Linked DNA regions of Homo sapiens: regions 1 and 2 are each linked to region 3. Evidence: fine-mapped expression QTL. A gene starts in region 3. Each other region holds a variant in brackets. All regions are shown on one strand. Distances are between the middles of the regions.

Region 1 (5,230 bases), 53 kb before region 3:
TGGGAGAATGTCCTGGTGGAGGGAAGCATCCTTACTAATGTGATAATTGAGGCATTTGAAGGTTTTGGGAGGAACAGCACCTACAGGGACAGTTAAGTCAGTGGGTTATTGCTCACTTGTATGACTGTCCTGTAGATGGAGGATGAGAAGCTGAAGGCAGTTAACAGACATAAGCTAAGTTTTACAGCCACAGGACCTTTTAGGACGCTTACAAAGAGGAACTATACCTTCAGTGGGTGGTAAGTTCAGGATTTAATAACTAGGGTTACAGAGCACCAGAGGTGTTTAAATGCTCAGCCAAGGCAGGTCTATTACGCTAAATTTAGGACCCTTATGTGAAGCCTGGGACTCTGAAACATGGGTTGGGAATATACACAGAACTAGTCTTGCTATTCACAATGGGTTGATAGGCCCCAAAATAATAGAGGCCAGGTAGTGGCACATAAGTGTCAGAGTTGCTTTACCATTAGAGTCTTGGGGGTAGCCAAAGGGTCTTAATGGGAAGGAGTAGTATACATAGATAATAGAATATGGTGTCTCTAGGGGAAAAATAGATGGGCAGCGAATTACTGTGCTACTTAACATATACAACCAGAAGGCAAGAATAGAGGAGCAGGAGGCTGAGAGCTGTAGCCCAATAAAGCACTGCAATTCCTTGCTGATTTCCCAGATCTGAGACTATGTTCAGATCTGGAACCCATTACCTAAAGAGTTAGCCAATTTCCCAAGAGAAAGAACCCTGCAATGCAATGACAAAGATATAGAGTACTGCAAAGCTTTCTTCAGTTCTTCCCTCATAGAGATTTACAGACATTTACTAATGTGATTGTTGCTGTTAAAAGGAGAGTAACCAGCCTTTTTGACAACTATTTGACATTGATACATGAAGACCCAAAGTATTTTCATGGCCTTCAGAGTGGGCGCACGCAAAGACTAAGTAGTAAATGGGGTTCTGGCCAAAGTAGGTTCACTATGTCCATGGATCCATCCTGTTGGACCATGCACCCCATTTACTACTACTTTAGCCAGGACCCTGCAGTCATTTCCTGAATGTATAATTGGAATTTATATACTTGAAAATTGAAGTTAGCCTCAATTGGGTCCTTTGCCTGTGGGGCAAGAGCTATCATAGAGGATGAAGGCCAAGTGGAAGACTTTGAAACTGCCTCCCTAACTGCCAAAGACGGTAAATTACAATTTCTTATCCCAGGGGTGATGGAAGGTATTAGTGCAACCATTAAAGATCCAAAGAATGCAGGGATAGTGGTCCCTATCATATCACTTTAATTCATTAGTCTGGCCCTGCAGAAACCAGATGGATCTTGAGGAATATCAGTACACTACAACAAGCTCAACCAAGCAGTAGCCTGGACCACAACTGTTGTGCCAGACACAGTTTCATTGCTAGAGCAGAGTAGTAAGGCCTCAGGTACATGTCTACTGGCTTAGTGAATGTGTTCTTTCCATTCTAATCAGAAATTGTGTGCATTCACATGAAAGAGACAAAAATACTCATTTGCTTCTTCGCTATGGTAACTCTTTTGCTGTGTCATAAAATAGTCTGAAGAGATCTAAACTATCTAAACATCCCATAGGATATTATGTTGATTATGTTGAGGACATCATGCTCATAAACTGGTTATCACACTGGAGGTCTTGGTGAGACATGCGTACTCTAGAGTATGGGAAATAAGCCATTAAAAGACTAGTAGTCTTGCCACTTAAGTACACTTTTTAAGAGTCCAGCAGTCAGGGCTATGACAAGACATGTCCATCAAAATAAAAAACACATTGCTGCATCTTGTATTCCCTACTGCAAAGAAAGAAGCTCCTAGTGCCTAGTAGGCTCTTTGGGTTCTGGGGGCAACACATTCCACACTTAGGGATACTGCTCTGGACATATACCAAATGATAAAAATGGTAGCCAGCTTTCAGCGGGGGCGTGGGGGAGGGGGGCTAAATGAGGGCTGTGCTATTAATGAAAAATGTATGGATTTGATAAAACAAAAAATGTAAGAAATAACAGTCAAAACAGAAGACAACTGGCAACTGGGAAAAGTGTTTGCAAAATTAGAGTTTTCATCCTTATTACACAAGGAATACTTCTAAATTACCAAGAAAAAGACAAGCCCTTAAGTTGCACAAGGATAAAAAAAAATAAGCAGGCATTTTAAGAAAAAAATTGAAAGTGGTAAGTAATTAGTTATGGCTTCATTCTCTAATTGACCAAACCACCAAAAAATTGTTTTTCCTCAAATTCCTTAGCTATGTATAAGAGTTTTCCAGAGCTTAACTATTATCTCCACAGAGGCCTTTTCTGACCCTTGCATGGAAGACGCCTCTTTAATGTTGCCTCCGTTTAGGATATTTGGAAAAG[G/T]GGGTAAGGAGGGAGGTAGTATAACCACTTTTCTTGTGTGGTCCACTCAACGTCTTCAGGTTCCATGTCCCTTCTTGCTACTCATTTCTCCAGCAATTTAGTCACTACTCACTTTGTCATACATCATTGGAGATTCATAGAGCAGAACCCCCCTAAAGGTGATACTGCTGTTTCTACAAAGGCCTTTGTATGTAAGATAGGGTTGAGCATAAGGAAGATCTTACTCCTTCTAGGTACCATCATATCAGGTTGTTCCGGTGTCTCTTATTTTTCTGAAGGGCCAGGAAAACTAAGCTGTAAAATACAGGAATTTTCCTGAATCCTCCAGCATTCTCTGGCATAAAAAAAAAGGGGGTCAGCTGAGACTACATCCCAGTAGGAGACCACCTGGTCTAAAATGAAACCACTCCCAGACTGGAACATGTTGACATGGCAGTAAGAAGCATCCATAGAAGAGGTTATTGCTACGTCATAAGGGCAAGTGTGTACCAACACCTTGAGTTTGCAGCCTGACATCTGGTCCACAGAGCAGCAATTTCAAAAGAGGAAACAATTGGCAGTTAGAGAAGGAAATGGCATAGCTACCATTGGAATTTTTGGTAATCTCAAAGAAAAAAAAAAGGAAACTGTATCGACTGAAAAGAAACACATGAAGTGAACAGGATAAGGAGAACTTTCGGCCTTATTTTCATAAATTGCAGAGAACTGTGAACATTTGTTATAGGGACATTTCGTGAGCAACTCAGGGACCCTAATGAGGAGATAAATGACTTGGAAGACTAGGATTTTCAAACATAACCAGTGAGGCAAAAATATTACTACTACCATTTGTATATACTATGACTCTTGATCATCCTGACTGGTGTGGTCTGAAGAAACACTTAGGACTACCAGACTGCCTCATTTCAAAAAAGAATGTAAGATGGCTTATAAGGCTAGGCAAAATATAGCCAAATAACATCATCTGAAGTATATGAGAAGGAAAAAGGGATCAAGAATGAGACTAATATAAACAATACCAAAGTGCCCTGTTTTCTAGATGGAGCACAAATTTAGCTCTTGCTTCTTATCGGCAAACATAAAAAGCCAACTCACAATGTACCTAAGATAGTAGCAAATGAACTGTTTACAAGAGGTGCAAATATTACAGTAAGGTCAGAATAACTTCAGACTCCACAAAAAGAGCCCATTGTGTGATGTAATCAACATTCCTACAGTTGACACAATGATGAGTTTCATAGAATTGTTTATAGAATGTCCTGCAATGCTAACCAATGGCTTCAAACTCAAGAGAAATTCTAGGGGTAAGTCAGGAAGTTACTGTCCAGGCGGTCTTTGCTAGGTGCTTGCCAGACTTAATTCTCAGGTACATTCTAAAGTATCTGAGGAAGTGATAAAAAGCAAATCCCTAACATTCCTTTATAAATACTGTTAACCACAGTCAAACTCACAGAAGATAGATATTAGCTAGCTGACGGTTCATGACTGGAGTTCAGCCACCCTAGGGTTCTAAGAAAAACTGTCTTAATGAGACATTAAGCTGGTGTAGGAGTGACATCTTTTAGGCAAACTTGAGTTTAATAATCAGTAGTTTCTGAGAGAATACTCTAGAGTTTGACCGAGGTTCTCTTTAGGAAAAAAAAAAATTGAATCTGTGCTCTCACACAGACAGATGGGCCATTTAGGTTCCAAAGTTCTGCTCAATATAACCTAGTCTTAATTAATTTTAGTTTGGAAAATGTTTAAGGAAGGCATAACAGTGGCCATTAAAAAATCTTTGCCCTCCCCGCAATTCCCAAAAAGCATCCATAGAAAGCCTAACTTTGAGTACTGTGGTTTCCTGATGTTCTTCCAAGTTAAATTATTTATGTAATGAACATTGAGGTATCTGAATGAAGTGACCTTCTGTGTAGAATTAGGAACCAAGTGAAATTTGGAAAACAGCTTGGTGTTTCTAAACTATAAGAGCTCTCTATATACCCAGGATATTAATTTTTTTTTGAGGCAGAGTTTCGCTCTTGTTGCCCAGGCTGGAGTGCAATAGCGTGATCTCGGCTCATTGCAACCTCTGCCTCTGGGTTCAAACGATTCTCCTGCCTCAGCCTCCCAAGTAGCTGGAATTACAGGCCCCCACCACCACACCTGGCTAATTTTTTGTATTTTTAGTAGAGATGGGGTTTTGCCATATTGGCCAGGCTGGTCACGAACCAGGACATTAAATTCTCATCAAATATTAATGTTCTAAAATGTTCCCACTTGTATTTTTTCTATTATGTTTTTGGGCATACTGAAATTTTAAATTTTCACGTAATAGATGTAGCAATTCTGGATTTACCTTTTAGCCTTAACAGGTCATTTCTCATCTAAGAATGAGATGTTCACCTACATTTTCTACTGTTTATTTTACATGTCTTTAAACCTATTAATCATTTTATATTTCTTTTGGTATACAGAGTAAGAATGGGAATTTATCACTCTCACCCCTCAATTAAGCAATAGTCCCAGGGCTATTTAAAGAATATTTCTACCTTTCCCCAGTAATGTGAAATCAAACCATTACCTTATTCTAATATCTTTTGATAAAATCTGTTTTTATGCTGATTCTATCCATTAATCTATATATTCTTGCATCCATTCCACACTGATATTAGTGTAAATAATATATCCAAATATACAACTTTACAAATCCCACTTCTCCCGTTACTCTAAAACTTTTCCTGGATATTCTGGCCCAGGTATTACTTCTTTATAGTTTCCATTTTTAATTTTGTAGTCTCTGAGAAAGGGCTCCAGTTCCATGTGCCTTATGCATTACGTACTTTGGAAGTACTGGATTCCTCAGACTTCAACTAA
Region 2 (5,230 bases), 48 kb after region 3:
ACAACTTTCCATGGTGACTGAACTAATTTACAGAAACTAAATATTGCACATTCTCACTTATACACTAAGTACACGTAGACATAAAGAAGGGAAAGATAAATACCGGGGCCTACTTGAGTGTGGAGGATGGGAGGAGGGTGAGGATCAAAAAACTACCTAGTAGGTACTATGCTTGTTACTTGGGTGACAAAATAATCTGTATACCAAAGCCCTGTGACACATAATTTACAAATTATATAACAAATCTGCACATGTACCCCTTGAATCTAAAATAAAAGCTGGAAGGAAAATAATAAAAGGAGGTTAGCCTGGGACACAAGGGTTTGTATTTTTAAGTCTTTTTAAAAAAAAGGAAAACAAGGGGAAAAAACCCCACCAGTTCTATCTAGCCGGTGTTTGGCCTTGCCTTTAACTTCTTAGTCTGGGGCCTCACTGCATTTAGCAATTGTATTGTTTATATGTGTGTTGTGTGACCAATTAGTATCACCAAGTTCATCTTAGATTGAAAAAAAAAAAATCCCCAGATAGAAGTAGTTGCATTCATAAGCCCTTATATTTACAGTATGCCTCTCCCAGAAAGCTCAAAACACAACCCTATGGTATAACCTAGTTTGTTCCTAGATTATCTCCATGTGTTTGGTAAGGAGGAGCTTCTGTAATTATTATTGTCATTGGACGTTTCAGAATGGAGAAAATTTATAGGTTGAAAAGATCACATGGCATTGGTGGCAGAAGCAGGAAGGAGATATCCAGCTTCCAGTCCTGTCTTTATTAGTGATTTTCAAACTGAGGTCCACAGACTAAGGCCTAGAGGGCTGAACAAGAGCCACTTGTAGAGCTAGCTAAAATGAGAGATTCCTGGACATCACTTCTTTAGAAATTCCTATTCAGTAGGTCTGGAGTCAGACCCAGGAGTCTTTACAAGCAATTCAGATAATTCTGATTCACAGACAAATTTAGGAACCAGTACTATATGTCATATGACAACTAAGCTACCCACCTTGTACCGTCAAAAAAAAAATTTGCCTGGTATGTTTTTTTCCTACTCTTTTAAAACCTGCCTGTGTTGTTTTAATTTGTATATCATGTTAACAACACTCAATAGTTTGTTAACAGAGACTGATTAGCTTAAATCTATTTTGGGAATTTCACCCATTCATATTTATCATAATTACTGCTACGTTTAGAATTATTTCTACCTTCTCATCCTGAATTTTAAATTTATTATAATTCTTATTTCTTTTTCTCATGTCCTTTTTTATGTTGCATAAAATAAAGATTTTCCTCATTGTTTTCTCTTGTTAAAATTTTCTCCCAAGACTGGGTGTGGTGGCTCACGCCTGTGATCCCAGCATTTTGGGAGGCCGAGGCGGGTGGATCACGAAGTCAGGAGATTGAGACCATCCTGGCTAACATGGTGAAACCCCGTCTCTACTAAAAATACAAAAAATTAGCCAGGCGTGGTGGTGGGCCCCTGTAGTCCCAGCTACTCGGGAGGCTGAGGCAGGAGAATGGCGAGATCCCAGAGGCGGAGCTTGCAGTGAGCTGAGATCACGCCACTGCATTCCAGCCTGGGCGACAGACAGAGACTCTGTCTCAAAAAAAAAAAAAAAAATTTATCCCAAAACTGGGAAATAAGGCAGAGGGAATAAAGCATATCCTTTCATGTCATACTGGGGGTGACTAAGGAAAGCAGATTACTTAGTGATCTAGAGGAATATGCCCATGTTTAAATTTGCTGTTTGCTATTTGACTATAGCTTAGACACTACGAAGTTACATATTAATTTGTAGATTTTTGTCCATTAAGAATGATAATCCTATTCATAACTGTTTTGTTTTGTTTTTTCCTAGAGTACATTTTGTATTGTTAAAGTGTAATTTTCAAAAAGGTAAAATTAATGACTCTCATAAAAAATGTTTATATGACAAACATTTTATTCAACTCATTTATTAATGAGAGAACTAGTAAAATATTAAGATAACTTCAAACAACATTTGGGAAGCTACATATTTCTGTCATTTAATAACATGTTCAAAGAAAATTTAAAAATAAAACTGTCTAATAGTCTACAGGATAACAAACCACAACCTTTGAAGCTGTTTTCTACCAAAAGAAATTATTTACACCTCCACTGGAAAAAATATAAAAGTTAATATGTAAATTCATTAAATCTGGACCCTTAATCAATGATAAGCAGTGAGTCGAAAGAGTACATTTCTGTAAATCAGGGGTTGATAACTATAGCCTGCAGGGCAAATCTGGCTTGCTATGGGCCAAACCTAGCCAGCCTATTAGTTCATGTATTACCTTTGGCTGATTTTGTGCTAAGAACCTGTAGCTTGCAATGCCAAAAATATTTACATATTCTCTAGTTCTCTACAGAAAACATTTGCAGAATCTGCCTTAAGTAACCCTTGATTAGGTCTGTGCCCCTTTATAATATCGAAAGG[C/T]AGCTGCTTTAATTCCACATTTTGGATAATTTTTCTTAATATTGTCTAACCTAGCAATTTTATTCTAACATTTTTGTTTTTAAACATTTATTTATTTATTTATTTTTATAGATATGTGATCGGTGGGGGGGCCATGTCTCACATTGTTGCTGAGGCTGGTATCGAACTGCTGGGCTCAAGTGATCCCCTCGCCTCAGCCTCCCAAAGTGCTGGGATTACAGGTGTGAGACACCATGCCTGGCCCTATTCTAACATTTTTAAATGCTTACCAAAAAAAAAACAAGCCATTTTATAAATCTTTAACATGTGTTCTTTCTATATTTTCATGACAGTCATGCTTTTAACTTTGAAAATTATATTTTGATGCTTTTTTCCTCTGTTATCTTCATGTTTTTAGCATGCACACTTTTTAAGTAAAGAGTATCTTTATCTTCTTCTTCCCCCTCCAAAAAGAAAAAAAACTAGGCTTGTTTTGTCCTTCTTTCTTGTCTTTCTTACTCACCTGAACTCCCTAACTCCCATCTCATTAAATCTATTTTTTTTATCATCTGGGATTGTAGCTCCAGTCACCATTAAAGACAAATTTAAAAAACAATTAGTACTTACATGGATATGACAATGAAGATTTACAAGATGTCTATTGATTATTGCATACCATTAATTCCTTCTAGTCCACTTTTTTGGTTTGGTATGTTGCTATTATCAATTTTTTCGAAGATCACCAAAGGATGGTAAAATTTCTGAGTTCTATGTATGAAAGTCTCTTAATTTCACTTTTTGGGGCAAACTTGCCTGCATATAGATTTATATTTTTAAAGTTTTATTCTTTTAACATTCTGATAATGTGAATTCATTATCTTCGTATATTGTTGATGAGAAGCCTAATATCAATCTGATTTTTCTTCCTTTGTGAGTAATTTTTTTTCTCTTTCACTTGTGGCTTTTAGAATTTTTTCTACTTAAAAAATATTTTGTAATAATTTCCAAGTACAAAAGAGTTGTAAGAACAGTATAAAGAATTGCCGGGCTGGGTGCAATGGCTCACGTGTGTAATCCCAGTACTTTGGGAGGCTGAGACTTGGAGGAACGGAGAGGGGCCAGGCGGTGGGGTGTGAGGTGGATTGCTTGAGGACAGGAGTTTGAGACCAGCCTGGTCAACAGAGAGAGACCTTGTCTTTGCAACAAAATACAAATAATTTGGCTGGTATGGTGGTGTGCACCTGTAATCCCACCTCCTGGGGAGGATCACTTGAGCCCAGGAGTCTGAGGCTGCAGTAAGCTATGATCTCAACACTGCACTCCAGCCAAAAAAAAAAAAAAAAAAGAACTGCCATATCCTCTTTATCCAGATTTCCCAATTGTTAACATTTGTACTCTCTCTCCTTAACTATTGTTATTCTTTTCTAAATAATTTAAGAGCAAATTAAGGACATGATGCTCCATCACAACTAAATATTTAAATGTATATTTCCCCAGAATAAAGTCACGCTTCTACATAATGACAATATAGTAATCCAAAGCAAAAACTGGTATTAGGCATCATTACAATCCAATCTACAGATGCATTCAAATTTTATCAGATGTTCCAAAAGTGTGTGTATGTGCATGTGTTTTTTTCATTACTTGTCCAGGTTCAGATGTATTTAGTTTTGTGACTTTAATTTCCTTCAGTCTGGAGAAATTCCTCAGTCTTTGTTTGTTATAAACTTGAGAATTTTAAAGGACAGGTCTTCTGTTTTGTAGAATGTCCCTTTTCTGTGTCCAATTGATGTTTCTTTATGTCCAGACTTAGACCTAGCTGACTTGGTGGAAATACCACAGATATGATGCTGTGTTCTTCTCAGTGCACCCATCTGGAGGTACATAATGTTGACCAGTCCCGTGACTGATAATGCTGATCTTAATCATGTTGGTTTCTGCAAAATTTCTCCATTATAAAGTCACCATTTTCCCTTTGTAAGTGTTGAAGATTTTGGAGAAAGATACTAGATTATACCAATATATTGTTCTTCTTCAAACTTCTATCAAGAAAACTTGGCATCAATTGACAGCTCCCGTCTGCATCAATTACTATTATGATGGTTGCTATATGATAATTTTATATTTCTCTTTCTTTTGGCTTTTATTAACAGAATTCTACCAAGAAAGAGCTTTTCTTTATCCTGTATGTATGTATGTATGTATGTATGTATGTATGTATGTATGTCTATATCAACTCAAGGATTTCTATTTTATTCATTGGGTTGTGATCAATTATTATTATATTTTTAATACTCAAATTTTCAAGATGTAGCCAGCATGAGTTCCTTCAGAGCTGGCTCCGGTTATTCTTTTAGTACTGTCTTACTTTGCGGTACAACAAGATGTTTCAGACTCATTTTGTGCTTTTCTTGCTCCCGTCCTAGAATCAGCTATTTCCCCAAAAATCTTGAATTCCTTTCAGTGGAATATGAAATTTTGAAACTAAAATCTAGGCACTCACTTATATTCATTGTTAGTTCTTAAAGAGTGTCATTGCTTCTAGACTCTTTCAGTGAATAAAACATATATGTGTTGGAAAGAAAGAGGGGCACAACAGACATTGGGGCCTACTTGAGGGTGGAGGGTGGGTGGAGGGAGAGGCTCAGAAAAAGAAAAAGTGTCAGGCACCATGCTTATACCTGCGTGATAAAATAATCTGTACACCAAACCCCTGAGTCACAAGTTTACCTATATAGCAAACCCGCACATGTACCCCTGAACCTAAAGTAAAAAGTTAAAATATTTAAAATAACAAA
Region 3 (5,230 bases):
GAAAAAAATGTTACCAATTAAACTTTGACATGCAATCAAAGTTTTAAAGACTCACCCTGATTACAAAGATGTTAAAAATAGTGGAGAGGAGTGAAATATGGTAATTGTATCTACCTCATAGAATGGTTATAAAGACAAAATGAGTTAAAACATGTAAAACCTTTAGTAGAACAGTCCCTGACATATAAGTGCTCAACGTTAGCACACAGTATTCGCCAAGCTTTACTTTCTGTAGTGGGTAATTCTTTCCTTTACTTTCGGTAGTTTGTAAAGCAAGAGATACTGAATATGTATATCCAAACTGCATTCACTCTACCTTGCCTCAGCACACTCATACTCACACATTCAAAATCCAAATACACAGCCTAATCTCCTTCATCTAATGTAAGATCCTTTCTTATTCTAAAGCAAGATTTTCCAAGCCATGGCCTGGGCTGCTGGAGGCCCAGGATGGCTTTGAATGCAGCCCAAATTCGTAAACCTTCTTTAAATGATACGAGATTTTTTGCAATTTTTTTTAAGCTCATCAGCTATCATGAGTGTTAATATTATGTGTGGCCCAAAGACAGTTCTTCTTCTTCCAATGGGGCCCACGGAAGCCAAAAGATTGGCCACCTCTGTCCTAAAGAGTTATAATGTGAGTCAAATGTATGATTATCTTTGTGTGAAGGGCATTGCACCTGACTCAGTTTGATACTGCCAAAGCATGAGGATATTCCTGGTAAGATGTTTATTTTTCCCAGTCTTCAGCTCAAATTCTTGACATTCAGTCTGGGCAAGTACACTCACCAGGTGTATGCTTCACACTCAAGGCACTGAAGTACCTATGGAAACTGATGACTTACTTCTGGAGAAGGCTTTATAAACAATCCCAGATTGCTACACTGACTCATAAGTCCCCATCTGACATTCTATTCTCCCTGCTGATGACAGATCTTGATAAGATGAAATCTATAATCTAAAAATAATAGTAGTCCAAGGTTATCAAAAGATAAAAAGCACAAAAAAATAAAAGGAAGGGGACTAGATGTTTATTTATCTTAGGACAATAGTACTGTAGTTATAAAATTTCTCTCTACTACCATTACATAAATTGAATTAAATTACTGTTCTTTTATACCAAATTGGCATAAAATGATTAATAGTAGTTAAAAGAAATATTTCCTCAAAACCACCACAAATCAATGCATCAACATTGCTAGTTTTACATGATTGTAGATAAACCAAGGCCTTGCAAGGTCGTATGGCTGTGATCTGGAGAGAGCTGGAGAGAGGCCAAAAGGTTATAAAGAATCTAATTTTTAAAATCAATTTAGTATACTAAAAGCTGTTCACCCAGTATGGCTCTAGAGTACAATATTTTTAATTCTCAAGAGTTGGAAGAAATAAAGCAGCAAAACTGACCAAAATTGAAAGATCTCCTGGGATGAGAATACAGCGCAGACTCCAACAACCCGTTTATGGATATTTTGCCAAAGTAGGTGTAAATTTAAACGGGCACAGCGCTAATTTGCACCTGTCCATTACACATTACATCTTGACTGATTAATCTCACAGTCACCAAGAGCTGGCCAGATAATGGCTTTGATAGTATTAAGAGCCAAAAATAAAAGATCCTATCATTATTAATTTCCCTCTGCCTGTCAGCCTCTCTCCCAGTGACATTTTTACAAAGGAAAAAAAACAATCAATCAGCAAGGAGAAGTAAATATCCCTTGATTACTGAAAGATAATTCATTCTCAAATCAGGTCATATTTCCTTTTCCCCTTTACACCAATTTCAAAACCCATGGCCAAGGCCTGCTTTCAAAGTGCTTACAACTTGCTTTCAACTGCCCACCTTTACGCCTGTCAACCCACAACTTCCTTCCAAAAATCTGCTCTGGTGCCTTAACTTTGTAAAAAGTGTGCACTCCGAAGCCTTTAAACGTTTCTGCATCACAAAAGCTGGGTGGCACCTCTTCCATTTGGCCACAGGCATCTTTTGCCAGCTGTCGCCCTTTTGGCAAAGGAAAATGGGGGCGGCCCTTGCCGCTGTCCAACAGCCCAGACTGGGTGTTACAGGGCAGAGGCAAAATTAAACAAAGGCTAAGGAGCCGGACCCTTAAGAGGCAGGACCTGCGACCCCACTGCTGGCAGCGGTGCCCCTTGCAGGGCGGCCTTGGGCTTCATGCGCCCCGGGCTGCCCCCAAGGACCGCCTGTCCGACTTCCTGCACGCGAGCCCCTGATCTGGAGCGTCTCCCCGAACCCAGACCGCTCAGGAGCCGGACCTCAGCAGCACTTTTGGCCAGGTCCAGGGTTGGCGCCCCCGACCCCAGCGCGGGCGGCTCGGGGCGCCCAGAACCACCAGCCATTGTCCTTTGGTGGCCCCCACTGGGGTCCACTCAGTTGGCCTCGGGCGCCGGCCGCTGCTGGGGACACCTGGGGGAACCGCCTCCCCCGCGGGCCGGGCCGGCGGAAGGCCGCGTGGGCGTGTGTTGGGCGATGGGGGCGGCCTCCAGCCGCCGCGTCGCCGCCTCCCCCACGGCCTGCCCGGGCAGAGGGGAGGGCCCGCTCACCTCGGTAGCGGCGGGAGGCGAGGTGGCACGCTGCGAGCAGCAGCACGGCCACCAGCGCCAGCACCTTGGCGCTCCTCACGCTGAAGTAGTGGTTGATCTCCCGCTTGCCCAGGTTGTAGGCCAGAGCCGCCATCTTGGTTCCTCCATGACAACAGTGCGCGGCGGAGCGGGAAAGGGGCGCCGCACAGGGGCAGCACTGGGGCTGCCGCCGCTGCAGCCAGGCGAGGAGCGGCCGCCAGCTCCCCAGGCCGCCACCTGCGCCTCCCGCCGGGGAACCTGACCCCGCGGCCGCGGCGCCCCCGACCTCCGCCTGCCCCTCCTCGGCCGCGGCCGACTCGGCGGCCTCCCCCCAGCCCCGCCGCCGCTGCTCCGCCGTGCCGGTTCCCCAGGCGCCCTGGACGCCTGTCTCCTCCCCTTCCTCCTCCTCTTTAGCCTCCTGCCTTAATAGCGGCTGCGCCTGCGAGGGGGGTCCGGATGCCCAGTGCTCCGGGGTCACCGGGTCACGCGCCCCGGCGGGCGGCGGCGGCTGCGGCAGAGCCATGGGGGTGTGGGGAGAGAGTACTAGGGGTACCCGCCTGGCCCGGACGCGAGCCTTAGGGCTGTCTCCTAGTTTACTGGCCGCTACCTGAGCCCAGGTTGGGGCAATAGAACTACAGTTCCGGGAGAAAAGTACACATCGTCCCATTCCTTCCTTCCCCAACACTCCCCTTTCTCAGCCTTCTACTGCCAGAACCCGCCCAGCGGGATGCGAAGGACACCCTAAGGTCGTTTATTGTCTGGCTATCCGTGGCCTGGCTGGTCAGTCTGGCTGCCCCTGGGTGCTGGCCAGATTGGATTGATGGATCCAGTTGATGGTGCTGGCCGATGGATTGCTGGCATCCAACCCAGGAGTGAAACCAGTCTTAACACTTAACTCACCGCTCTGGCCAGTTTCTCTTAAACCGTTTTTTTAATGTCCTCAGTTTGCCCAGTTCTGGTGGGCGAAAGTACACCAAAGTTCCGAATGGAAGGTACAGAAGGAGCCTAACTTAGTGTAGGTGTTGATGAGAAAAGAGTCTGACTCTCACTTGTATTTACGCAAGTTTGGCTAGGTCGATGTGCCAAAAAAATTCGTTTTTTTTGAGAGGGAGTCTCACCCTGTCGCCCAAGCTCTAGTGCAGTGGCGTGATCTTCGCTCACTGCAGCCTCCCCCTCCTGGGTTCAAATGGTTGTCCTGCCTGAGCCTGCCGAGTAGCAGAGATTGCAGGCGCCCGCCACCACACCCGTTTAATTTTTGTATTTTAATAGAGACGGGGGTTTCACCATTTTGGTCAGGCTGGTCTCGAACTCCTGACCTCAAATGATCTGCCCATCTCGGCCTCCCAAAGTGCTGGGATTACAGGCATGAGCCACCAAGCCTAGCCAAAAAAAATTTTTCTTAATGTGCTTATGACAATCATCCCCGCTACTAACGTTGGTTAATGTTTTGTGATTCTCAATAAAGCCAGCACTCCATTTCCTTAATAAAGCATTGTTATCCCTACTCTCCTCTCGCTCCCACCCCACCTTTTTTAAATGGTTTTTCTTGTTGCCTTCCAGATGGGAATGGTTATTTACATTGCTTGCCATTCTACTTGCCTTGCCTTGTTTAGAGTGAGTCATTGTTTAGTTGGGGTGTTGTCAAGTATTCTTTACAACTTTCCCATTTAGCCATTCCTGAACTTGTGCTTATAGGCCCCTCTTAAAATTATAGAATATTAGATATGAAGGGACTGTAGAGATCTTGTCTACTCATTCCCATTCTCTTCATCCAAGGACTCTTTATTATGTTTTCATCCATGGACTTTATATCTTGAAAGATTTTGTCACTTAAATGAAATCACATACATCACTGTCATGGATGTAATGCTAATAAGCAATAAAGTTAAATAAGTGTACAAACACTTAGGCACTGTTCCCTGCAAATAGTCTTTTAATTTTGGCTGTCATTCTGATCAGAGGTTGATCACATGTTGTAAGAATTGGGTATTGTAAAAACCAGATAACTCTGCCAACAATATATGGTCTGCCAATCACATCCTAGACATTTCTATGATGTCATTACCAGCAAATTAGAATTTCTGATCAGCATGCAATAACCAGTGTTAACCCAAAGGGTTGAGTTAATGCCTGCAAAAAGTAAAGAAACTTGACATTCTATTAATTGCAATTTCCAGAAGGCTTTCTTAAATACTGTAAATAGCTTGTGAACCTCCTTTTTCTTCTCTCAAGTTTAAGGCCAATCTCTCTACCTCTGCTCTGAATCTTTTCTTATCCTCCTTTCTTGAGGGTGTTGATTCCTCCATCAGTTATCCCCATGCAAATCATTCTTTTTCTGTGTCTTCCAATTCTCCCTATCACCTTGCTGTTTGCCTTCCTCCAAAAAAAATTTTTTTTTAATGAAAAACACCCATGGACTCTGTTCCTGCATGTTTACCTCATCAACTCTTTCCTCCTCTGGCAAACATCTAGAAAGAGCAGTGTTGACTCTCTGCCTTCACTGGCTCAATTAGCATTCTCTCTTCAGCCATTTCATTGTTCTTCACCAAGGCTGTGTGGTATGACTACTTGTTAAATCCAAGGGACACTTTATATTCCTTATCTTCCTGGACCATTTTGTGGCACCTGACATTGTTGACCATTCTTCCTTATT

Direction of the effects. Alleles are on the strand shown, and positions count from the first base shown. SD is a standard deviation of normalised expression in the study named.
With allele G in place of T in region 1, the expression in tibial artery of the gene that starts at base 2,968 in region 3 is higher (moderate effect, 0.52 SD a copy in GTEx).
For the expression in anterior cingulate cortex of the gene that starts at base 2,968 in region 3, allele T in region 2 goes with a higher level than allele C (small effect, 0.38 SD a copy in GTEx).

What was found. PIP is the estimated chance that this variant, and not a neighbour inherited with it, causes the effect. A credible set is the group of variants that fine-mapping cannot tell apart.
Region 1: its variant is the best candidate, but not a certain one, in a credible set for the expression of CASD1 in tibial artery (GTEx, PIP 0.53).
Region 2: its variant is the best candidate, but not a certain one, in a credible set for the expression of CASD1 in anterior cingulate cortex (GTEx, PIP 0.70).

What each region holds. Positions count from the first base shown.
Region 1 is chr7:94,560,395-94,565,624 of GRCh38, reverse strand. It overlaps a transcript of CASD1 not described here. Among named protein-coding and RNA genes, the nearest start is that of CASD1, 53 kb to the right of the region's middle. The variant G/T (reference allele first, on the strand shown) is at 2,378.
Region 2 is chr7:94,459,624-94,464,853 of GRCh38, reverse strand. No RefSeq gene overlaps it. Among named protein-coding and RNA genes, the nearest start is that of CASD1, 48 kb to the left of the region's middle. The variant C/T (reference allele first, on the strand shown) is at 2,454.
Region 3 is chr7:94,507,547-94,512,776 of GRCh38, reverse strand. CASD1 (CAS1 domain sialic acid O acetyltransferase 1) reads right to left here and starts at 2,968. Exons shown (of 18, transcript NM_022900.5): 1 at 2,560-2,968. The coding sequence starts at 2,692. RefSeq lists silencers at 2,305-2,664, 2,765-2,914, 2,955-3,174 and enhancers at 1,708-2,694, 2,695-3,683.